Homo sapiens: one gene and its partners. The protein of the gene in region 1 purifies or fractionates together with the protein of each later gene. This does not show direct contact. Each region holds a gene or a part of one and is shown in the gene's direction. Other genes may lie near its edges. The genes, in order: ADORA2B, GTF2IRD1, TMEM87A, PGAP4, REEP5, SURF4 and XPO5.

Evidence for each region.
Region 2: the proteins of ADORA2B (region 1) and GTF2IRD1 purify together in Homo sapiens (affinity purification with mass spectrometry; one large-scale study listed by BioGRID and IntAct). This does not show direct contact.
Region 3: the proteins of ADORA2B (region 1) and TMEM87A purify together in Homo sapiens (affinity purification with mass spectrometry; one large-scale study listed by BioGRID and IntAct). This does not show direct contact.
Region 4: the proteins of ADORA2B (region 1) and PGAP4 purify together in Homo sapiens (affinity purification with mass spectrometry; one large-scale study listed by BioGRID and IntAct). This does not show direct contact.
Region 5: the proteins of ADORA2B (region 1) and REEP5 purify together in Homo sapiens (affinity purification with mass spectrometry; one large-scale study listed by BioGRID and IntAct). This does not show direct contact.
Region 6: the proteins of ADORA2B (region 1) and SURF4 purify together in Homo sapiens (affinity purification with mass spectrometry; one large-scale study listed by BioGRID and IntAct). This does not show direct contact.
Region 7: the proteins of ADORA2B (region 1) and XPO5 purify together in Homo sapiens (affinity purification with mass spectrometry; one large-scale study listed by BioGRID and IntAct). This does not show direct contact.

What each region holds. Positions count from the first base shown.
Region 1 is NC_000017.11:15,972,630-15,976,129, forward strand, and holds the end of ADORA2B (adenosine receptor A2b), read left to right. Parts: intron 1-2,049; coding exon 2,050-2,713; 3' UTR 2,714-3,117; downstream 3,118-3,500. UniProt on the Homo sapiens protein: Receptor for adenosine. The activity of this receptor is mediated by G proteins which activate adenylyl cyclase.
Region 2 is NC_000007.14:74,456,906-74,460,405, forward strand, and holds part of GTF2IRD1 (general transcription factor II-I repeat domain-containing protein 1), read left to right. Parts: intron 1-3,500. UniProt on the Homo sapiens protein: May be a transcription regulator involved in cell-cycle progression and skeletal muscle differentiation. May repress GTF2I transcriptional functions, by preventing its nuclear residency, or by inhibiting its transcriptional activation.
Region 3 is NC_000015.10:42,263,434-42,266,933, reverse strand, and holds part of TMEM87A (transmembrane protein 87A isoform 1 precursor), read left to right. Parts: intron 1-2,730; coding exon 2,731-2,844; intron 2,845-3,500. UniProt on the Homo sapiens protein: Potential monoatomic ion channel gated by mechanical force, implicated in normal touch sensitivity through the generation of mechanically activated currents.
Region 4 is NC_000009.12:101,480,674-101,484,173, reverse strand, and holds part of PGAP4 (GPI-N-acetylgalactosamine transferase PGAP4), read left to right. Parts: intron 1-2,667; exon of another isoform or gene 2,668-2,811; intron 2,812-3,448; exon of another isoform or gene 3,449-3,500. UniProt on the Homo sapiens protein: Golgi-resident glycosylphosphatidylinositol (GPI)-N-acetylgalactosamine transferase that catalyzes the N-acetyl-beta-D-galactosamine transfer from an UDP-N-acetyl-alpha-D-galactosamine to the 4-OH-position of the first mannose of the glycosylphosphatidylinositol (GPI) of a GPI-anchored protein (GPI-AP).
Region 5 is NC_000005.10:112,912,228-112,915,727, reverse strand, and holds part of REEP5 (receptor expression-enhancing protein 5), read left to right. Parts: intron 1-3,500. UniProt on the Homo sapiens protein: Plays an essential role in heart function and development by regulating the organization and function of the sarcoplasmic reticulum in cardiomyocytes.
Region 6 is NC_000009.12:133,369,561-133,373,060, reverse strand, and holds part of SURF4 (surfeit locus protein 4), read left to right. Parts: exon of another isoform or gene 1-2,139; coding exon of another isoform or gene 2,140-2,185; intron 2,186-3,500. UniProt on the Homo sapiens protein: Endoplasmic reticulum cargo receptor that mediates the export of lipoproteins by recruiting cargos into COPII vesicles to facilitate their secretion.
Region 7 is NC_000006.12:43,548,539-43,552,038, reverse strand, and holds part of XPO5 (exportin-5), read left to right. Parts: intron 1-585; coding exon 586-741; intron 742-1,027; exon of another isoform or gene 1,028-1,069; coding exon of another isoform or gene 1,070-1,071; intron 1,072-2,104; coding exon 2,105-2,146; intron 2,147-2,460; coding exon 2,461-2,550; intron 2,551-3,500. UniProt on the Homo sapiens protein: Mediates the nuclear export of proteins bearing a double-stranded RNA binding domain (dsRBD) and double-stranded RNAs (cargos). XPO5 in the nucleus binds cooperatively to the RNA and to the GTPase Ran in its active GTP-bound form.

The sequences.
Region 1 (3,500 bases):
TTGTCATAGAGCCTGCTTATCTGATACATGTTGTATCTCTCAACTGGATACTGGTCAAACCTCTTAAGGACTAGGATCTTGTCCCTTTGTATTGGTATCCCCAGTAGTGGTTTCTAGTATTTTTTTGTTGTTTGTTTTTTTGAGATAAGGTCTTGCTCTGTCACCCAGGCTGGAGTGCAGTGGTGCAATCACAGCTCACTGCAGCCTCAACCTCCTGGGCTCAAGTGATCCTGACTCTCCCACTTCATTCTCCCGAAATAGCTGGAACCACAGATATACACCACCGTGCCCGGCTAAGTTTTGTACTTTTTTGTAGAGATGGAGTTTCACCATGTTGCCCAGGCTGGTCTCCAACTTGTGATCTAATGGCTTGAAGATGACCAAAAAATTTAATATTTGCTATTTCCCAATTTTTATCAACTCTGCTGCTAGTATTTCTCAGTAGACAGGGGCACTGCTAGACTCTTGTTCTCCAGCAGTCTGCAGAGGTATTCAGAAATGATTCTGCCCATAGTCCTAGGCAAATGTCTTGTGGTGTTTGTGGGAAGCCAGAAAGATCCTTGCCTGGAGCCACAGGTGGTGCTGACTCCAGTGCTTACTGCCTCAGGCCTTTGTTCAAGTGTCACCTTATCCATGATGTCAGCCTCTTTAAAACTACAGTCCTGCCCATCCTGATCTTTCTTACTCTGCTTTTTCATGTTTCATACCACATATATCTCCATACTGTTTATTATTATGTTTACCCCTGCTAGATCTGAGTCTGTTAAAATTTAGTAGGGATCTCTGTGTGTTCTGTTCACTGATGTATCTCAAGCACTTAGAACAGGGTTCCTCAACCCCTGGGCTGCAGACTAGTACTGGTCCGTGGCCTGTTAGGAACTGGGCCACACAGCAGAAGGTGAGCAGGCAGGCGAGCATTACTGCCTGAGCTCTGCATCCTGTCAGATCAGCAGCATTCGATTCTCATAGGAGCTAACCCTATTGTGAACTGTGCACGCAGGGGATCTACGCTGTGCGCTCCTTATGAGAATCTAATGCATCACCCCCCGCCCCTGGTCTGTGGAAACATTGTCTTCCATGAAGCTGGTCCCTGGTGCCAGAAAGGTTGGGGACCACTGACCTAGAACAATGCCTTACAGAAGACCTAGACTCAAAGAGCGGTACCTAGGTAGGTAGGAAGTATAGGAAGTCGATCGGTTTTTGGAAACTGTGACTTGAAGCAAAATGATGCACTGTATAACAAAGCCAATTTTACCACAGTTGATACTGTTAAAAGAAAAACTTCGGCTGAATTCAATTTAAAAGAGCTTAATTGAGCAAAGAATGATTCACAAATTGTGCAGCCTGCTGAGCCAAAGCAGGCTCAGAGACTCCAGTGCAGTCACGTGGTGGAAGATAATTTATGGACAGAAAAAAGAAAGTGATGGACAGAAAAAGGAAAAGTGACGTACAGAAAATGGAAGTGAGGAACAGAAACAGCTGGATTGGTTATAGCTCAGCATTTGCCCTTTTTGAACAGGGTTCGAACAGTTGGCCACATTTGATTGGCCAAAAGTCGAGGATTGGCATGAGTGCAGGCTATAGTCTGTTTACACGTCCACTTGTTGTAGTCCACGATGTACAGAGAAACCTTTAGGCCAAATTTAAAATATGTAAGGAGGCAGCTTTAGGCTAAACTTGATTTAACAATATAAACAAGAGTTAACTTCCTATGACATATACTTCAAGTCACAGTTTGAGAACCCACCGAGGACATTGAGGACTTACAGTACTCCCTTAAGGCTTCCCCACCTCTTGTCATTGGCCATCCTGTGTCACTAAACAGAAAGGAGTTGCTAAGTCAAGAATGAAGATCTTACTGAGTTTTCTAGAGCAAAGCTGCTCATCCCTGCTTGCATGTCTTTAGTATTGAGGGTAAAGGCCTTAGTGCCCTGGAAGGTGAACTTTAGAGGTTGTTAAAGGGTCATGGAAAAAAGAGGAGGTGGGGTCTTGGATTGTGGTTGCAGAGCGCTATAAACTGACCGTAACAGATGGTATTCTTTTAAACAGGTATAAAAGTTTGGTCACGGGGACCCGAGCAAGAGGGGTCATTGCTGTCCTCTGGGTCCTTGCCTTTGGCATCGGATTGACTCCATTCCTGGGGTGGAACAGTAAAGACAGTGCCACCAACAACTGCACAGAACCCTGGGATGGAACCACGAATGAAAGCTGCTGCCTTGTGAAGTGTCTCTTTGAGAATGTGGTCCCCATGAGCTACATGGTATATTTCAATTTCTTTGGGTGTGTTCTGCCCCCACTGCTTATAATGCTGGTGATCTACATTAAGATCTTCCTGGTGGCCTGCAGGCAGCTTCAGCGCACTGAGCTGATGGACCACTCGAGGACCACCCTCCAGCGGGAGATCCATGCAGCCAAGTCACTGGCCATGATTGTGGGGATTTTTGCCCTGTGCTGGTTACCTGTGCATGCTGTTAACTGTGTCACTCTTTTCCAGCCAGCTCAGGGTAAAAATAAGCCCAAGTGGGCAATGAATATGGCCATTCTTCTGTCACATGCCAATTCAGTTGTCAATCCCATTGTCTATGCTTACCGGAACCGAGACTTCCGCTACACTTTTCACAAAATTATCTCCAGGTATCTTCTCTGCCAAGCAGATGTCAAGAGTGGGAATGGTCAGGCTGGGGTACAGCCTGCTCTCGGTGTGGGCCTATGATCTAGGCTCTCGCCTCTTCCAGGAGAAGATACAAATCCACAAGAAACAAAGAGGACACGGCTGGTTTTCATTGTGAAAGATAGCTACACCTCACAAGGAAATGGACTGCCTCTCTTGAGCACTTCCCTGGAGCTACCACGTATCTAGCTAATATGTATGTGTCAGTAGTAGGCTCCAAGGATTGACAAATATATTTATGATCTATTCAGCTGCTTTTACTGTGTGGATTATGCCAACAGCTTGAATGGATTCTAACAGACTCTTTTGTTTTTAAAAGTCTGCCTTGTTTATGGTGGAAAATTACTGAAACTATTTTACTGTGAAACAGTGTGAACTATTATAATGCAAATACTTTTTAACTTAGAGGCAATGGAAAAATAAAAGTTGACTGTACTAAAAATGTATACTTGTTGCCAGGAAGGTGACCTCAAAAATTAAAAGTATAATTATTCGGCCGGGCATGGTGGCTCACACCTGTAATTCCAGCACTTTGGGAGGCCAAGGCAGGCGGATCACGAGGTCAGGAGTTCAAAACCAGCCTGTCCAATATAGTGAAACCCCGTCCCTACTAAAAAATACAAAAATTAGCTGGGTATGTGGCATGTGCCAGCTACTCAGGAGACTGAGGCAGGAGAATCATGTGAACTTGGGAGGCGGAGGCTGCAGTGAGCCCAGATGGCATCACTGTACTCCAGCCTGGGTGACAGAGTGAGACTCTGTCTCAGAAAAAAAAAAAAAAAAAAAAAAAAAAAAAAAATATATATATATATATATATATATATATATA
Region 2 (3,500 bases), on another chromosome or scaffold:
GCTGTGGTATCTTTGGGCTGAAGACTTCCTCGTCCTCAGGGCTGGCCATGGTTCCACCTTTATATCCCCATGATGTCCTCTCTTTTTTTTCTTTTTTTCTTTTTTTGAGACAGTCTTGCTCTGTGCCCAGGCTGGGGTGCAGTAGTGTGATCACAGCTCACTGCAGCCTCGAACTCCTGGACTCAAGCCACCCTCCCACCCCAGCCTCACAAGTAGCTGGGACCGCAGACAAGGGCCACTACACCTGGTTAATTTTTTATTGTTTGTAGAGATGGGGTCTTGCTATGTTGCCCAGGCTGGTTTCGAACTCCTGGGCATGAGGAGTCCTCCCACCTTGGCCTCTCAAAGTGCTGGGATGACAGGAGTGAACCACCGCGCCTAGCCAACATCCTTTCCTTCCTTTGTCCCAACATTGATCTTACTCAGATGTTTACATCTCTCTCCCCAATTGCACTAGGGACAGGAAGGGATGGAGGCTTGCTCCTCAAATACTTGTTAAATGGCTACATGTTTGAATGAATGAATGAATGAAATCCTGCTCTTGAGCCTTGACCTAAATGGCTAAGCAGACTCTCTCCTATTTTTCTTAAATGCTCATCTCTGGGGCAAGTTCCCCACCCTGGTAGGAGTCCCAGGGTCTCTCCCTGAACTTCCTGGGGCCCCCTCTCTCCCCACTACCCCAGCCTGTGTCTTCTCCCAACCTTAACCCTGGGGGCTTTGCTCCCCAATGTCATCCTCTCTGTATCTCTCAGTTCTCTGACTCTCGCCGTTTGTAAGTATCTCTCTCTCAGATGCGTGGCAGCCAGGGTCACAGCCAGGTTCTTTGGGACAAGCCAGGGGTGTATGCCCAGCTCCATGGGGCCTGCAGAGGCTTCAGGGGACACCCATGGAAGAAGACCTGCAGGGCCAATTTATAAACAGAGGAGCAGAGCAGGACCCAGGGCTTGGAATCCATGCTGAGTTACGTTTTTGTTTTTTTTTTTTTTTTTTTGAGAGGGAGTCTCACTTTGTCGCCCAGGCTGGCATGCAGTGGCGCCATCTCGGCTCACTGCAACCTCTGCCTCCTGGGTTCAAGCGATTCTCCTGCCTCAAGTAGCCGGGATTACAGGCATGCTCTACCACGCCCGGCTAATTTTTGTATTTTTAGTAGAGATGGGGTTTCATCATGTTGGCCAGTCTGGTCTAGAACTCCTGACCTCAAGTGATCTGCCCGCCTCTGCCTCCCAAAGTGCTGGGATTGCAGGCATGAGACACTGCGCCCGGTCCTGAGTTCAGTTTTGATTGGGGGGCTTCCGGGATAATATGGGGCCGCTAGGACAGGGACCCTTAGTGTGACTGGAAGGGAATTTCCTGAAGGAATTCATAGCAGAGGTGGAGTGGTGGGAAGGATGGTTTCTGGGGGAGAAGGAGATGCGTGAACCTGGCCAGAAGACAGTGTGTTGTGACAGATGATTGCTGGTGAGGGGGTAACAGTCTCCAAGGTGTAGATGTTGGGGGCTCCAGATACGGCAGGAGGGGCCTGGCCTCTCGGAATCCCCTCAGCCCCATCTCATAGAAACATGTGCTTTCTACCCAGGCTCCATACTCCGGAAGGGAGGCAGGACCCTGTCACTTTCTTGGCCTACTTTGGAAGTTCTCAGTCAGGTATCTCCAGGTGTGGCAGAGGGGCTTTGGCCTGTAGGGGGTGTGGTAATGTGGGTTTTGGAGGCAGAAAGCTTTTCAGGAAAGCCCCCTGGTCCATCACCCCCCTTTCTTTTTTTTTTTTTTGAGATGGAGTCTTGCTTTGTTGCCCACGCTGGAGTGCAGTGGCACGATCCCAACTCACTGCAACTTCCACCTCCCGGGTTCAAGTGATTCTCGTGCCTCAGCCTCCCGAGTAGCTGGGATTACAGATGTACACCACCACACCTGGCTAATTTTTGTATTTTTAGTAGAGACGGGGTTTCACCATGTTCGCCAGGCTGGTCTTGAATGAACCCCTGACCTCAAGTGATTGGCCCTCCTTGGCCTCCCAAAGTGCTGGGATTACAGGTGTGAGCCCCCAGGCCCGGCCTCATCATCACTTCTTCACCCACCCTATTTTGGTAGCTCTCTCTCCACTCGTCCTGTGGAACTGATCCATTCTCGGTCCCATTCCCTTCTCTCTGGGCCAATCTGCACCTAGGTTTGTGGCTTCATGAGTATGGAGGGTCGTGCAGAAAGGGGCCAGGTCTGTAGGAACCTGGGTTCATGCCCTGGAAATTTGCCCATTTAAGATAAGTTAGGGCCGGGTGCGGTGGCTCATGCCTGTAATCCCCAGCACTTTGCACTTCGGGAGACCGAGGCGGGCGGATCACCTGAGGTCAGGAGTTTGACTAGCCTGGCCAACACGGTGAAACCCCATCTCTACTAAAAATACAAAAATTAGCCAGGCGTAGTGGCGGGCGCCTGTAATCCCAACTGCTCGGGAGGCTGAGGCAAGAGAATTGCTTGAACCTAAGAGGTGAAGGTTGCCGTGAGCTGAGATCGTACCATTGCACTCCAGCCTGGGCGACAAGAGTGAAACTCTGTCTCAAAAAAAAAAAGATAAGATAGGTGTCCTGAATAAGATAGGTGAAATGGGTGAGGATGTACTTTATCTTACACGGTCTTAGGGAGTGTCTCAGGCGGTGAACAGAACTCTCTCGCCCCTGAGCTGGGGCCTGGCTGACCCAGAGCTATTTGTGTGCCCACCTGTCACCCTCTTTCAGGACCACCTGCTTCAGGTTGCCAGATTTAGCAAATAAAAATAAGGATGCCCAGCTAAAATTGGATTTCAGACAAGCAAGGACTAATGCAATATTTGGGATGAACTTCTAGCTAAAAGTTACCTGTTGTTGATCTGTAGTTCAGACTGAACTGGAGGTCTTGCATTTTATCTGCCAACCCTACAACTGCTGCCTCTGGGGCGGTGAGATGGATGGGGTTTGGGGAGGGGCCAGAGGTGTGTGTGGCTGACCCTGGAGTTGGGATCAGGGCTCAGTGGAGGCCCCGGGGATGATCTGGAGCGAGTTTGAATCGAGTGGAGCTGATTCACTGAATCTTGGCTTTTTTTTTTTTAATTTGTATTGAAATGAGGTCTCACTCTGTCACCCAGGCTGGAGTGCAGTGGCACAATCTCGGCTCACTGCAGCTTCTCCCTCCCCGGCTCAAGCGATCCTTCTGGCTCAGTCTCCCAAGTAGGTGGGACCACAGGCACACGCCACCGTGCCCGGCTAATTTTTTGTATTTTTGGTGGAGATGGGGTTTCGCCATGTTGCCCAGTTCCTGAGTTCAAGTGATCTCAAAGTGCTGGAATTACAGAAGTGAGCCACTGTACCCAGCCAGCAGGGTCCTTTTTCATTTTTATTTTATTCTATTTTTTGAGACAGTGTCTCACTCTGTTTCCCAGGCTGGAGTGCAGTGGCGTGATCCTACCTCACTGCAACCTCCAACTCCTGGGCTCAATGTGATCCTCCCACCTCAGCCTCTGCACCTAGCTA
Region 3 (3,500 bases), on another chromosome or scaffold:
GTAATGGTAGTTTTTCAGTCATTCTTTCAAGTAAATATGGTGTTTCGTGGAAAAAATGATTAGTTTAACTCACAAGTCAAAGCAATTGCAGAGTGCTTTATCTCAAGACAATAATTTATTGTATTTTGCATGCTTTCCATTTTGTCACCTAGATTATTTAAAAAGTCAGGTACTCAAAAGGTCCAGATTTAATAACATTAATAATTTTTACTGCTTTATCTAGGATATTCTTACATAAAAGTGGCATTTTTAAAAACTGCCAGTTTGTGACTATGAAGAATATGACTGCTAGTAGAATTAAATGCCACTGCCTTAGTTCCTGATAAGGGGCAACAGTTTTACCCACTATTGCTTTTGTAATATCGTTACAAGTCAAATAGCATACTATTATTATTATGAAAATAGTTTTTTTTTTTTTGAGATGGAGTCTCACTCTGTCACCCAGGCTGGAGTGCAGTGGCGCGATCTCAGCTCACCACAACCTCTGCCTCCTGGGTTCAAGTGATTGTCCAGCCTCAGCCTCCCAAGTAGCTGGGATTACAGGTGTCTGCCACCACACCCGGCTAATTTTTGTATTTTTAGTAAAGATGGGGTTTTGCCATGTTGGCCAGGCTGGTCTCAAACTCCTGACCTCAGGTGATCCACCTGCCTCAGTCTCCCAAAGTGCTGGGATTACAGGCGTGAGCCATTGTGCCCAGCCATGAAAATAGTTTTGTCTATGGTTCAACGGCCACACTTTTGAGAATTGCCATAATCTAGAATACTTGAGCGTTGAAAATATATTGCTCAAAGAATAAAGCTGGAAGCATCACATTACCTGACTTCAAACTGTACTACAGGGCTACAGTAACCAAAACAGACACAAAGACCAATGAAACAGAGAAGACAGCCCAGAAATAAGGCCGCACACCTACAACCATCTGATATTTAACAAAGCTGACAAAAAACAAGCAATGGGGAAAGGACTCCCTATTTAGTAGATAGTGTTGCGGTAGCGTGCTGGCCATATGCAGATTGAAACTGGACCCCTTCCTCACACCATATTCAAAAATCAACTCAAGATAGATTAAAGACTTAAATGTAAAACCCAAAACTATAAAAACCCTGGAAGACAACCTAGGCAATACCATTCTGGACATGGGAAGTGGCAAAGATTTCATGATGAAGATGCCAAAAGCAATTGCGCCAAAAGCAATTGCAACAAAAGCAAAAATTGACAAATGGGATCTAATTAAGTTTAAGAGCTTCTGCACAGCAAAAGAAACTATCAATAGAGTAGACAGCCTACAGAATGGGAGAAAATATTTGCAAACTATGCATCCAACAAAGGTCTAATATCCAGCCTCTATAAGGAACTTAAACAAATTTATATGCAAAAAACAACCCCATAGAAAAGTGGGTAAAGGACATGAACAGACACTTTTCAAAAGAAGATATACAGCCAACAAGCATATGAAAAAAAAAAAGCTCAGTATCGTTGATTATTAGAGAAATGCAAATCAAAACCACAATGAGATACCATCTCACATCAGAATGGCTATTATGAGAAAGTCAAAGGATAATAGATGCTGGCAAGGTTGTGGAGAAAAGGGAATGCTTATACATTGTTAGTGGGAGTGTAAATTAGTTCAACCACTGTGGAAAGCACTGTGGCAATTCCTCAAAGAGCTAAAAACAGAATTACCATTTGACCCAGCAATCCCATTACTGGGTATATATCCAAAGTAATATAAATCATTCTACCGTAAAGACATATGCACATATATGTTCACTGCAGCACTGTTTACAATAGCAAAGACATGGAATCAACCTAAATGCCCATCAATGGTAAACTGGATAAATGTGGTACATATGCGGCCATAAAAAAGAATGTGATACATATGCAACCATAAAAAAGAATGAGATCATTTCCTTTGCAAGAACACAGAAGGAGCTGGAGGCCATTAACCTTAGCAAACTAACACAGGAACAGAAAGCGAAATACCACGTTTTCACTTATAAGTGGGAGCTGAATGATGAGAACACATGATCACAAAGAGGGGAACGGCAGACACTGGGCCTACTTGAGGGTGGAGGGTGGGAGGAGGGAGAGGATCAGAAAAAATAACTCTTGAGTACTAGGCAGTACCTGGGTGATGAAATAATCTGTAAAACAGTTCCCTGTGAGTTCAGTTTACCTATATAACAAAGTTGCGTATGTATACCGGAACCTAAAATAAAAGTTAAAAAAAAAATATATATATATATATACACACACATATATATAGTTCTGAGTTGAATTTTTCAGACCTTTTCCATTCTGTTTCTATCTCTCAATTTGCATTTTTAAGAAGATTATCCTAGTTCTGTGCTTGCAACAATTTTCTGCTCTATCTTAGCTTATGAGCATGAATATTTTTTTGTTGATGTTGTTAATTTGGTCAAGTAAATCTTTTAAGTATATTTTAATGTGACAAAACCCTCTACACTCTGGCAGTTTCCCAGTCTACTCAGAATTGTTAGTAGAACTATGCCTTGTGAGCCAAAGACTAGAGTCTAATAGTCCTTGAGTCTGATAGTGTTTGATTCTTAGATATTTTTATATAGAGCCTTTATCTGATGCTGTTCATTTTTAAAATAGCAAACTCAAAATTGTATCTGTACTGCAGGTGAACTGTTTGTTGTGCTGTGCTCTTAGTATCTTATTTTTTGGAAGGTGAGTTAACTACTCTGTATTATCTCTTTTTCCAGGCAGAAGAAGTAGAGTTGTATTTGGAAAAACTTAAGGAAAAAAGAGGCTTGTCTGGGAAATATCAAACATCATCAAAATTGTTCCAGAACTGCAGTGAACTCTTTAAAACACAGGTAATCTTTGAAAGTGATTGGAGATAAATAGAATAGGCAAAAATTGGAATGTATATATTTTTGGCTGTATCCACTTCCGACTTCTCAAGTATTTCTTTTGGCAGAAGTAAGTGGAAGCATGTTCTGATAGGTACATAGTCAGCCACTTATACATACTCATCAAAGAGAGGTTGTACTTTGCTTTGTGTGTAAAAAGCAAACCCCCATTTTTTTATTGTGGTAAAATATACACTACATAAAATTTACCATTTTAACCATTTCTAAGTGTATAATACAGTGGCATTAAATATATTCACATTGCTGTGCAGCCATCGACCCATCTCCAGTACTTTTTTTTTCCCCAAGGCAGATTCTTGCTCTGTCCGCCAGGCTGGAGTGCAGTGGCACAATCTCGGCTCACTGCAGTCTCCATCACCCGGATCTAAGCAATTCTTTCACCTCAGCCTCCCAAGTGGCTAGGGCTACAGATTCACACCATTACGCCTGGCTAATTTTTTTTGTATTTTCTGTAGAGACAGGATTTCACCATGTTAGCCAGGCTGGTCTTGAACTCTTGACCTGAAGTGATCCACCCACCTTGGCCTCCCAAAATGCTGGGATTACAGGTGTGAGCCACCGGGCTGAGCCCCATCTCTAGTACTTTTATCATCCCAAAC
Region 4 (3,500 bases), on another chromosome or scaffold:
ATACAAAACAGCACTCAACATTTCTTATCCATCTTTGGTAGCATGTGTTGGCATTTCTGCAGAGTAGATTCCTAGAAGTAGGATCGTTATGTCAAAGGGGATGCACTTATAAAATTTTTATAGATACTGCCCCAACACCCCAACATTTCCTCCAAAGATTGCACCAATTTATATTAAAGTGCCTAGTTGTTGAACTGTGACACTCCCTCGAAGTAAATTAAATTCAGATGTTAAATATAGAGATTAATTATGGAGAAAGGGAGCTCTATTACCAAGTCTTTCCACCTAAGCATTATTTTTCTGTTTATTAATGACTTTTTAATTACCCTTTGGTAGAATTTTGTAGTATGTGTGTATATTCTGCATATTTCTGAAATTTATTTCTAGATATTTGAGTTGCTTATTTTTTTCCCTTTTGACTGGGATCTTTTACTCCCTTAGTTCATTGGTGATCATGTACATGAAAGCAGTCATTATAATATAGATAATATAGATACAGATATGGATATGTAATGCATATATATAGTACATGTGTATATATACTTGCTATGTATATTATATATTATTTTTACATATTAATTCTGGTACCAACCATGTTTTGAGTCTATTGCCATTTCTAATGGTTTTTCAGTTGATTTTCCTGGGCTCCAAATTTATGTAGGCAGTAGTGCATATTGGTTGAGAATGTGGGTTCTGGACACAGTCTGCCTGGGTTCAAGTTTTGCCACCCTGCTTAAAAACTTAGTTTTCTAAAGTATAAAATGGGCTTAATAGTCATACTTCTTGGAGGCTTTTTATGAGGATCGATAGATGAGATGCTTAGAACAGTGCCTGGCACATAAGTGTTCTGGAAACATTTACAAATAAGTCGATCTCTACACAGTATATGACCAGCTCTTTGATACTACCAATTTTATAGCTGAGGACCTGAGACCCATAGAGGTCAAAAGAAGCCAATTATTTGCTTAACAAGCATTGAGCATCTTCTATGCATAGTTCTGTGCTGGGTCTGTGAGGGATACCAAAGATAAATCAGACTGAATCTACTAAAAAAGGATTCAAGAGTCCAATCAGATCGTAAGTCAAGGACCATAAACAAGGCCATGGAAGACAACAGGCATCATAGAAAAACATGAGCTTTGAAATTTATCCTTGTCCTTGAATTTCCTCTTGCAACTTGGTAGCATCAGTTTTGTCAACTAAATGGGATTAATTCCATTGCTATTTTGAGAGTTGCTATTTTGTTCAGAAGAAATAGATGCAAGGGTCTAGCACAACATTGGGATATGTAGTATGGCCTTAATAAGCGGTAGCTATAAATAGATGAGTCTGAAGTAGAAAGTGACAAATGAATGCCCTGGAGGAAAAGTTCATAGAAAGGGCCCCAGTACTTGAGGGGAAAAAAAGAGATTCTTTCTGGTTGGAAAGGTCAGGGTTGGGTTTTGGAAGAGGTACCTTTTGAGCTAATTCTTGATGGTTGAGTTAGACAGTGTGAGGAGCAAAAATGCAGCTGGGAAGATAGTTGGAACTGGATTGTGAAGAATCTTGGCAAATAATTTGGACTTTATTCTACAGTCATGGGGGAATCATTGAATAGTTTTACAGAAAAGAGTGCCATGTTCTGACTTATGCTTCAGAGTATCAGATGGATGCTGATCAAGTAAAACATCACCATCATTTGCACAGTGTCCTATGCCTGACAAAGGGCTATCATAGCTGTTGTCTCTTCATCGTCACAGTCTCACTGTGTTGCCAGGCTGGAGTGCAGTGGCATAATCTGGCTCACTGCAACCTCCGACTACCTGGTTCAAGCGATTCTCCTGCCTCAGCCTCCTGAGTAGCTGGGATTACAGGCACGTGCCACCACACCCAGCTAATTATTGTATTTTTAGTAGAGATGGCGTTTCACCATGTTTGCCAGGATGGTCTCGATCTCCTGACCTCGTGATCCGCCTGCCTCGGCGTCCCAAAGTGGTGGGATTACCGGTGTGAGCCACCGCGCCTGGTTGAAGTATCTTTTATTTTCCTGTTTCACAGAGAAATAAAATAGGCTCAGAGAGATAAATGATTTTTTTATACAAATTGATCAAATTAGTGAGTGTTGGGACGAGAATTGGACCTAGATCTTTTGGCTTGTGTTGCTCATTCTGGAGGTCAGAAGCTCTGTTAGGAGCCTGTTGCAATCAGCTGGCTTGGAGGTGCTGAGGAGGAACTAGAGTGTGGCAGGGAGGAAAGCTTGACAAGGGGAAGGCGAGGGGAAAAGAGAGGCATAATAAAAGAGGCCGTAGAGGTGGGATTAGGAAGTGACTGCGTGGAGGTGAGAAGTTAGAACTAACTAGTGTTTTAGACTGAGTTGCCTGGGAAAGTGGTCGTGCCATTCATATAGTGGATTTGGGAAACACAGAACATTCTTGAGCACTCATCCCCTGACTCACACCCTGGTATTGTGTCTTCCACACCCGTGGATCCTTTAGTTTAATTTTCAGAAGTTGCACTAAAATATAACTATTGTTGTAGCTCCATTTATTCATCTAAGCCCTAGTTCATGTTCATTTCTCAGAGTCTGTGTCCTTTACTGTCTTCCCTGAGCCCTACACTCTAGATATGGTAACAGGTAGAGAATTCTGTTTAGGGAAGGGTTGTGTTTCAAAGAGCACATGCAAAGCATAGATAAGAACTGGATATGTATTGTTCTGTAGAATCGGAGCTGTAATGGTGTAACTGTTATTAGGTCAGCTCATAGGTGCCAGTCAGTCCACAGTGTCTCTGGAGTGTGGGCCTCAGCCTGTGACATCATGGGCAACTGGAATTCTGGAAAAAGACAATCAGAGTGGTAACATAGACATAGCCCTCTTGTCTCACCCTTATGATTGGGCTGGGAGTAAAAAAACTCCTTCCCCAAACTAGCAGTGAAAAATCCTATGTTTTTATATCTGTTCCCCTAAGGCCATTTATCTTTTATCTTTTTTTGTTTGTGTGTTTGTTTGTTTTTGTTTGAGACAGGGTTTTTCTCTGTCAACCAGGCTGGAGTGCGGTGGTGCGATCACAGCTCACTGCGGCCTCGACCTGCTGGGGCTCAGGCAATCCTCCTGCCTCAGCCTACTGAGTAGCTAGGACTACAGGAACATGCTACCATGCCTGGCTAATTTTTGTATCTTTTGTTGAGACTAGGTTTTGCCATGTTGCCCAGGCTGGTCTCAATCTCCTGGGCTCAAGCCATCCACCTGCCTCAGCCTCCTAAAGTGCTGGGATTACAGGCTTCAGGCACCACATCCAGCTGGCCATTCTTCTTAAAACCAGATCAGTAAGGTGAAATAAATTATAGGTGCCATTGGACACCACAGGCTACTGTGCAACAATTGGTTAAATCTTTTAAAAAAATGTTTTAAAAAGTAAACAAGAACATACTCCTGAATGACTACATAACTCCATGTGGTTGGATTTTCAGCAAAGCAGTCATCTAATCTTGAATGAAGGATCTGATCCCAGCTCCTGTGTCC
Region 5 (3,500 bases), on another chromosome or scaffold:
GCGCTTTGCCTTCTGGGGTAGTATGAAGCACAAGCCAATGTGGCCTTCTGGCCGATGTGCACTTGGATAAAAAATATAACAGGCATTCTGCAAACTGTGACTTAAGCAATTTACTTAAACATTTAAATCTTTAATTTACTTAATTTAAATCTGAAATCTTAAGCATTTAAACATTTAACCTTCCTCAACTTTTTTACTGTCCTTGTTTCACTTAACATTACTGCTAAGAGTGCTGGACTCTTTTAAGATGAAAGTGTTGTGGAGAAATGAAAAAGTAATAAAAATATCCTTATAACAACTTGTGACTATTTTGTAAAATAATGACAGCCAGCGTTTCAGTTAAGGTTCGCCCGCTTGCCTGTGTCATAAAGAAAATAAAGTTTTAAAAAGCAAATAAGATGAATGATTTAAATTATTTATTCATGATCAGAGTTTCTGGGCTCTAAAGCAGTTGTGGAGGAGGATCTCATTTCTAATACTCTATTCTGGAATGTTCCTTATGAGCTTTTTTTTTTCTCTTTATGAAGGCCCTGGAGATTTAGTCTATTTGTCCTTCTTTCTGTCGTAGCCTCCCTCATCTCCTTCTGACCTGGACTTCTCTTTTTCAGGACTGACTTTGAATGAGGACTCAGTTTTCAACTTAATTTTTTCACATGGCATTTAAAACAAGTATAAATACAAATATAACATGTTAAGGTATTTAGTGGTGATTCATAACATTAACAATTAATTTTGGGGAAGTATGAATTAATATGGCAGAAGTTTTAAAACAATTTCAAAATTGTGAATGAAATTACTTTTTGTAGCAGCTGAAATATAAGTGGGGGCTGTAGAAACGTACCCTGACTTCATTCTGTCACTTGCACACTTTCCTGATTCCAGGGAGTGGAGCTTATCAGTCACTCTGAGTCATGTGTCTACTATATATATCCTGCAGCCTCTGATAGACCAAGTGATCTAGTTAAGGGATCGCTCACTTGTCTAGACTGCGGTCCGCATCTAAGGTGGCCCTCCTTTACCTAGGAAAAGGCAGCTTAGGTTGTTCCCCTTCTAAGTTGTGAGGTTACTTGAGATTAAGTTAAACTTTATGATACCAATCTGACACAGATACTTATAGAACCACTGGTTTTATTGACAAAGGGTTGTCCCAGTGGGATTTGCATCTGCTCTTTTATTGCTCCTGGCATTAATCTTTTTTACCATCAATCATTCAAACAGTTTTTTTGGGGGGACAGGCAGGGAGGCTGAGATGGGTGGATTGCTTGAGTTTGAGACCAGCCTGGACAACATGGCAAAACCCCATCTCTACAAAAAATACAAAAAATTAGTACACGCCTGTAGTCCCAGCTACTCCAGAAGCTGAAGTGGGAGAATCACCTGAGCTTGAGAAAGTCAAGGCTGTGGTGAGCTGTGTTGATGCCACTGCACTCAGCCTGAGTGACAGAGTGAGACCCTGTCTCAAAAAAACACACACACACTTGGGAGGCTGAGGAAGGAGAATTGCTTGAACCCAGGAGGCACAGGTTGCAATGAGCCGAGATTGCGCCACTGCACTCCAGCCTGGTTTTTTTGAGTGTGTTTTTTTTGAGACAGGGTCTCACTCTGTCACCCAGGCTGAGTGCAATGGCATGAACACAGCTCACTGCAGCCTTGACTTTCTCAAGCTCAGGTGATTCTCCCACTTCAGCTTCTGGAGTAGCTGGGACTACAGGTGTGTACTAATTTTTTGTATTTTTTGTAGAGATGGGGTTTTGCCATGTTGCCCAGGCTGGTCTCAAACTCCTGGGTGCACACACACACACACACAAACACACACACATTCAGTTTTGAGTTATAAAATGTTAGCTAAAAGGGGTCTTAGAGACTAAGCTGCTAGGGTGATAGCCACCTGTAACAGATGTGGAAATCAAGGCCACAAACTGAAGTTAATTGACATAGGTCACAGGTGTGTTGGGACCAATTCAGTCTTAAGTGTAGGGATGTCTGTCCACATTCCGCATTGTTATATTTGACTGTGACTGACTCTTCCATTTTGCATTTAAAAACAAAATGGTGGATAGTGGTAAATGAGATCACTGTAATTAAACACCAAAAGATTTGACCACTGAATGACTGCATTTTTTTCTTTATACTTCATTATAGGTATTCTATAGACTCATCTTAATTTTTTTTTTTTTTTTTTTTTTTTTTTAGCCAGGGTCATACTCTGTCACCCAGGCTGCAGTGCAGTGGTGCAATCATGACTCACTGCAGCCTTGACCTCCCAGGCTCTAGCTATTCTCACTCCACTGCCTCTGTAATCTTTTTTCTTTTCTTTTCTTTTTTTCTTTCTTTCTCTTTCTTTCTCTTTCTTTCTTCTTTCTTTCCTTTCTTTCTTTCTTTTCTTTCTTTTCCTTTCTGTCTGTCTGTCTTTCTTTCTTTCTGTCTTTCTTTCTTGATGGAGTTTCCCTCTTGTTGCCCAGGCTGGAGTGCAGTGGCGCAATCAGCTCACTGCAGCCTCCACCTCCCGGGTTCAAGCGATTCTCCTGCCTCAGCCTCCCAAGTAGCTGGGATTACAGGCATCTGCCACCAATTTTTTGTGTTTTTAATAGAGATGGGGTTTCACCATGTTGGCCAGGCTGGTCTTGAACTCATGACCTTAGGTGATCCATCTGCCTTGGCCTCCCAAAGTGTTGGGATTACAGACATGAGCCACTGTGCCCGGTCAGTCTTTCATTAGTCTTTCTCGTACTGTTTGTTGGTTTTCTCTCTTGCTTTAAAAGCACATATACTCTGCAGTGAAAAAGATATGTAACTTTCTGATCACGCATAGTTTCCTGCCTTCTTTTTTTCTATGAAGGAGAAAAATATTTTCCTTATTGGCATGGAAACGAACTAGTGTTTATGTCTTAAAATGTCTGATTCTTTTTTCCTTCTTATTTGAGGTACTGATAATAGGAAAACCATTTTGAATTACTAAGAATTCCTACATCATACTCTCTGATAAATACAGCCAAAAGCAATCCCATGCATGGTGGGCATGGAGGATGGTCAAGTTATGTGTCTGCCATAACAAAAAGGATTATAAACATTATGGTCCATGTTCTTCATATTCAATTTCCAAAGAACCTATCTTAACCTCTGGAATATTTGCTATTAAACATAAGTTACCACATTAGAAATAAAATATAAAGCAGATGGACCAGAAGATGATTCCTTTCTGTTCTTTACCAATAGGACATCTTAAAGCTTTTTATCCATATATATGGATAAAATTAAAATATATATGGGTATAAATGGATATATAGATATATTTTAATGAACTGCTTTTTTTTCCACACTGTCAGTCTCTGGTAAATAGTTGATATTGGTACAACTGGTTTGAATAATAAAGCCAATGCTGTGAAGACATACTATTACTTAATTTTATGTCATTTGGCTAGTTTGAATTGTAGCAACTGAGTTACTTATGAACCATGCACAGAACACATAGTATGTACCTATGTGTCTTAGGTGTGAGT
Region 6 (3,500 bases), on another chromosome or scaffold:
ACCCAAGTGGGTTAGGACCATATCTGTAAGGCACCATATCTGTAAGGCAGCGCAGGCTGCCGCCGTCAGATGATCTCCTTAAGAGTCCGTCTAGGTGGTGGCAGAGCATGGCTGTGGGAGCTTCCATGCCCTTTTGTGGGCAGCTTGGGAGGGCAGCTACTTGTACTCGCCCAAACCCCAATCAGACAGATGCAGGCAAGTAAACAGGGTTCGAAGTCAAAATATGGCTTCTTGTGGACAGAATCTGACCAAGCCCAGGTGGGGCTTTGTTTCTCTTTATTCACATAGTACTTAAAGCTGCCAGACCAGGCTTTTACATGAAAATGACCTAATTTGAAGCCGATAGAGGATTACCATGGAAGTCACTGATCAGATAAAGTGACACATCCATTTTTTCACATCTTCAGAAAACAAGAGCAAAACTGAAGTGACAAGATTTGACCAGAAAGTGTGGGCTGCTGAAAGCAAGACCTAAGTAAGCTTAGTTTCCCAGGCCCAGTGTCTTCCAGTATTATGACAATGACATTAAGTCTTTCACTGGGCCGGGTCCATGATAGACATTCCTTTTGTGAACTTCTTGACTGTAGGAGGTTGGCCAGAGCGTCACCATCTTCAGATGGGCAGAGGGAGGTTGGCTGGCCGCACTGGCTTGTGGTGGCCTGGAGACTGAGTCCGCATCCTGTTACCCCAAAGGCTGGGTTCCTCACTGCTTGGTTGACTGATCTTTCCTTCTGGCCTGCAGAGGCTGGTCCACGGGGACGAGCAGTCTGGTTAGTTTCTGCTGGCAGGCTCCCCACAGTTGCATCTCTTGTCTCTCTGCCTCTGGCATCAAGCTGCTTGCTCTGGCAGCCAGGGACAGTGTCCTCTTGCTCCCAGGAGCCATGCTCTGTAGAAACTGCTGAGACGTGCTCTATGCAGGAGCTTGGCATTTGGAAGCCATGGGAAGGGTCCAGAAACTAATGAACTCAGCAATCCAAACTAATGTCCATGCCTGCAGCTGCTCCTCATTGCCTATTAGACACTCTGTAAAATGTAGCTTCTAAGCAGTTTATACCCATAAACAGCAATATTAGCACTTAATGGGTTCTGCCTGGTGGCTCATCACCAAGGTGACAGAAAAGCTGCATGGGGCCTTCCTCTCCAGTGTGACCTTTGGTGTTTTTAACCTGTCCTCAAGAGTGGCAGAGCTAGTCCTGGGCCCTAGGAGCTGGCCTCGGCCCTAGTTGAAGTGCTGGGGAAGCAAGGATAGGCCTGAGGACCCCTGAACTTGCAGGTGGCACAGGCACTGTGAGGGTCCCGATGAACACCATGCTGGTGACTGGTGTGGCAAAGTCCTGGTGACAGTGGCAGGCTCTGTCATACCCTGCCCTATATCATGAAGGAGTGGGGAGAGAAGGCAAAGAGGAGCTGACTCACTTTTCTTTGTGTGATGATCTTAACGGGAGGTTAAAACTCACTCTTCAGGGGAGTGCGGGCGAGGAGCAGAGGAGGTTGTGGTTAGCGGGGCTCCTCCCAGAACATGGGGCCCAGTCGTTCTCAGTTACGTCTTTCCTATAGTTGGGATTTTGATCACACAGTTTTTTAGTAAAGCCAGGCCATCATCTCCCACATTGGGCTGGCGACATCCTTTCTGGCCCTGCAGGGTGCAGTGTGAACCTATAGAGCAGCATGGGAGCGGGGCTCGGGGAAGTTCTGGAGCTGCAGTGAGCCAGTGAGCTCGAGCCAGCTCTGACAGGCTGATGTGAGGGAAGCCGCTGGGCCGCAGGTGCTTGTTTCTAGGATGTGTGGGACCTGAGTTGGGCTTTGAACAAGGCAGCCCCAGTCCTTGGTGATCAAGGAAATCTGACCTGCCTTTTTCGTCGATGTTCACATTCACCACGAATTTGCAAGCTGCTTTCCTCAATTTCTTTCTGTCCTGAGTGTGAAGAGAAAGTGGAGTTTTCTGTGTGGCGTGGGAGCTGCAGGTGGCTGTGACAGTGATCACTGGATGCCCAGGAAGTCATCTCAGGGTGGATATAATTAATTACGTTTCTAAAATCCCCTTCAGTCGTCTAAAATAACCACCCCTTTGAGAGAAATATCAGTCTTCCTGTTAAGCCCCTCAGATGCTGTCACTGCTTATGAACCATATCCTGCTTGATGGCGCGGTTCTCGGAGAGACTTAATGAGAAGCTTGGCCACAGAGGTGAGCTAACTGTCATCTTCTTCCTGCAGCCTGCCAGGTCAACAGCCACCTCTGGCTCTGCTGTCGCAGTTCTCTAATGGGGGGGAGGGGGACTGTCACAAGTTTTATGTGCTCGCCGTGTTTACACAGGTCACCTGTGTGCTGGCTACCAGCAATGGCCTTAGTGCCTGCAGTGCGGCTGCTCTTGTCTGTCCTGGGGTGCTGTGTGTCCTGCCTGTGTTGAGGGCTCTTCTCTGCTGTGCTGAGGGGACACTGGCTCTGGGACGTGTTCTAGAGTGGCATGACATGGTTCCAGTGGCCAAGTTGAAGTAGTTGTGACCAACATGCATGTAGGAAATAAGGTTAATGTTGGGCCTTGTCTTTAAACGTGGCTTTTTCAGTGTTCAGTCCAAACAGATGCTCATTAAATGGTGGCCAGTTTAGAGGAGACTGCATCAGCCTGACTTCAGCCTTCAGTGTGGACCAGGCTTGCCTTTGAAAACCAGGACAGCCAAGCAGTAGGTGTGCTCAGTTCAGAAGGCAGTACCTAGATTTTTGCATATTTTTCCCCAAAGCCAAGAGCTGTGTCTGTTTCGTCACCATGTTTGCGCAGGGAAGGAGGTGTGAATTGCCTGTCCCACCTTCTCTCTCTTTTTTGCTCTTTAATCCTCTTGACCCAGACACTCAAATTAAGAGTCGCAGACTCATTCAAAGAGACTTTTAAACACTGCCTCAATCTCGTGGGCTGTGCACGTAGATGAGCATGTTAAATGCAGGTCCTGCAACTGGGGGAGGCTTAGACCGCAGCCCATGGCTGGGCTGGTTTGCTCATCTCAGGCCAGTGAGTGGCTCACAGCTCTCATTTTAGAAGCAAGTCAGAACACCTCTGGTGTCTGTCTTGGGTATGGATTGCAGTCTACCTCTCTGCTGCTGTTGGGGTCCACGCCCCACACCCACACCCTGCCCTGGGAGTCCCACCACGGCTCCGTCTCATCTCAGAGGTCTGGACAGCCTCCTGTTGAGCTCTTCCTTCCCAGTGGTTGCTTTTCCCCAGGTTCAGATGAGATAAAGGCTTGTGTCCTTGCTGGGGCTTCCCAGCTGGGCCACGATGTGAGGCCATTCCTTGAGAGCAGTGGCACATCGTGTGCCACGGTGGTGTGCTTTCTCTCTTCCATGGAATATGGGTGATTACACTGTTGCTGGGCATTTAGAGAGCAACGGGGCCATGAGGCAGAACCTGGGGAGGGTGTGTGGCGTCACCTTTCCCACCACCCAGTGTGATGCAGGTTGCGTCACACTGTGCACATGGGCATCTTGTGCTGGTTCTCTGCATTGG
Region 7 (3,500 bases), on another chromosome or scaffold:
TGAAGAAATACAAAATTTAAGAGGTTTTAGGGAATAATACACTGCTGAGAAGATGGTAAGAAGGGCACGCACAGCTGAGTACGGTGGTTCACACTTGTAATCCCAACACTTTGGGAGGCCAAGATGGGAGGAATGCTTGAACCCAGGAGTTTGAGACCAGCCTGGACAATATAGTGAGACCTCATCTCTACTAAAAATTTAAAAAATTAGCCAGGCATGGTGGTGCGTGCCAGTAGTCCCACCTACTTGGGAGGCTGAGGCCGTAGGATCACTTGAAACCAGGAGTTTGAGACCAGCCTGGTCGACATAACAACACTTCTACAACATCTCTACAAAAATTTTAGAAAGTATCCAGGCATGGTGGTGCCCGCCTGTAGTCCTAGCTACTCAGGAGGCTAAGGCAGGAGGATCCCTTGAGCTCAAGAGTTTGAGGTTACAGTGAGTGATGATTGTGCCACTGTGCACTCCAGCCTAGGTGACAGAATGAGACCCTGTCTCTTTAAAAGATGAAAATAAAATGTAGCCAAAATGGTTATTTCTAAGTGGAGGCAGCCATTGTCAACCTGTTTTATGTCTTTGTTACAGGAAATTCCTGTTAATGATGGAATAGAGCTATTGCAGATGGTTCTGAACTTTGATACCAAGGATCCCCTCATCCTGTCCTGCGTCCTTACTAATGTCTCTGCACTCTTTCCATTTGTCACCTACAGACCAGAGTTCCTGCCCCAGGTCTTCTCTAAGGTATAAAGCCCATCTCCTTTGTAAATTTTATTTTGACATTTCTAAGTTAATTTTTATTTATTTTATTTTTTTGGAGACAGGATCTTGCTACATTGCCCAGGCTGGACTCAAATTACTAGTCTCAAGGGATCCTCACACCTCACCCTTCTGAGTAGCTGAGACTACAAGCATGCACAACCATGCCTGGCCTAGGCTAATTATTTTTGTAACTATTTTTAAAATTATGTGAGGCAAACTAATAAACACAGCTATTTATTCATTTATTAAATATCTACTCAGTACTTACTGTGGATCAGGTACCATGCTAGTGCCTCACTCTTTAGGAACACTCTGGGAAGAAAGGCACAAAAACAGTTAATGTTACCTATATGGCATTGCAATGAAGACTTGTATAAAGGAGAGTATTAGAGTGTGCTGTCGGGCAGGGAGGGGATTTATGAGAGGAAGGAACACTTTCCAGGTTTCCAGTTCAGTTGACTAGGTGGGTGATAGAGCCACTCCCTGAGTCAGAATACCAGATCACAAAGGAGAACGGGACTAAAGAAGAGAAAGCATGAGTATTTTGGAATACTGTGTTTGAAGAATATGTAGAACATCTTTATGGAGACATCTCACAATAAATTGGCTATTTGAGGTTGAAGATCTAGACTCTAGAAAGTAATGAGATAAAATTAAAGCATCATCATCATAGTAGTCCCACGACTAAAAGTGAAGTCTTACTGAAGTGATTATGTATGTAGAGTTAGGAGACATGTGAGTCAAGCGAGGAACCTAGTGAATCACCATCATTGGAGGAGTGGAGAAAAAAATGAGAAGCCCCCACAGAAGGAAAAAGAGCCAGAGAAATGAAGAAAATGTTGTGTCACAAGACCAGTAGGACTTCAGAAAAGTGGGCTCATTTGTTGCAAATTATTTGAGTTGGAGAATGCCCAGTGAGTTTCTTGACTACACTCTTGTCTGAGTTTAATTCCATAATAGTGGCCAAGTAAGCAGCCATATTTCATTGGAATGAGGAGTAAATGGGAAATAATGAAATGGAATAGAAGGGATAGACCATACAACTTTTGATAAAAGAAGAGAGAGGCGTTTCCATAGCCAAGTGCTTGGGTGATGGCATGAATTGTTCTGGGATCCTATTGTAAAATGTTTTGATGGTAAAATTGTGACTCCGATGACTCTTGTAGAGGTTATCTGAGAAAATGGACAGTATGAATAAGCTCATGCCCGTAGTCCCAGCTACTCAGAAGGCTAAAGCAGGAGAATCAGTTGAGCCCAGGAATTCAAGTCTAGTCTGGGCAACATAGCAAGATCTCATCTCTAAAACAAATAAACATGAGTGACCTTTTTTCCTCCTCTCCCTTAGCTATTTTCATCTGTCACTTTTGAAACTGTTGAAGAAAGTAAGGTAAGACCATTAATTAAACCAATAGATTCTAACTTCTTGAGTACAAATGTATGAATACCTGATACTCAGTTTATATTTTTATATAAATGGGAGGGGGTAGTAAGGGTGGTAGATTATCATATATGTTGTTTTGCCACTATAGGGCATACAAGAAACATGGATTCTTGGTGGCTATAAATGTTACTCCATTATACTCTTAGGGTTGTGAAAAATCATTGTGAATTTGCCCCTGACTGAGATATTCACATGAGTCTATGCAGCACCTGTATATTATATTAAAAGCAGCTCCGAGTTTGTTGAATGTCTCTTTTCAGGCCCCCAGAACCCGGGCAGTGAGGAATGTGAGGAGGCATGCTTGTTCCTCCATCATCAAGATGTGTCGTGACTACCCCCAGCTTGTGCTGGTAAGCTGCTGGACCCTGGCTGAAGTAGCCAAGTTTGGTTACATTTGTGTGTAAATCCAGCTTTCAGTGTACCTCACATAAAGAAAAAACTAGAAACTATAGCTTTGCATCATATAAGCATCCTTGGCCGGGCATGGTGGCTCACACCTGTAATCCCAACACTTTGGGAGACTGAGGTGGGTAGATCACCTGAGGCCAGGGGTTCGGGACCAGCCTGGACAACATGGTGAAGTCCGGTCTCTACTAAAAGTACAAAAAAATTAGCTGGGCATGGTGGTGCATGCCTGTAATCCCAGCTAGTCAGGAGGCTGAGGCAGGAGAATCACTTGAACTCAGGAGGCGGAGGTTGCAGTGAGCCAAGATCACGCCATTGCTCCAGCCTGGGCAACGAGCGAAACTCCATCTCAAAAATAAATAAATAAACATTCTTGAATTGGTGTTTTCTTAGTATACTTAGTAGTATAGTTAGAAATGTGATGGCAAATGTAATCTCTCTTCAAAATACAAATAGTTCTCTGCCATATAGATTACTAAGTTTACCCCTATAATTCTACAACTCTTTACTATGTGATGATCTTAATTACTACTGCCAAATGATGTGCCTGATCTTGAGAAAAGCAGATGCAAATCACAACCCTTTTTGGGGCATGGGGTTATAAGAAATTTAACATTACTCCAGATTACAAATTATCCAGAAATTTCTTCTCTGAATGCACAGCAGTTATCTCCATATATATATAGATATACATATATATCTATATATATATATAAAACAAGCTGATCTTTTCACAGTTGTAGTATGGGAAAGTGCAGTTATCCAAATACTCAAGACAAGAGCTATCTTCCGCCTAAATTGCCTTGCTTATTTAGGCAAAATAAAGACATATAACAGAATTACCAAATAATAACCTTATAGGCCTGACTTTCCTGGGACTGCTTTGGTTTTCTTC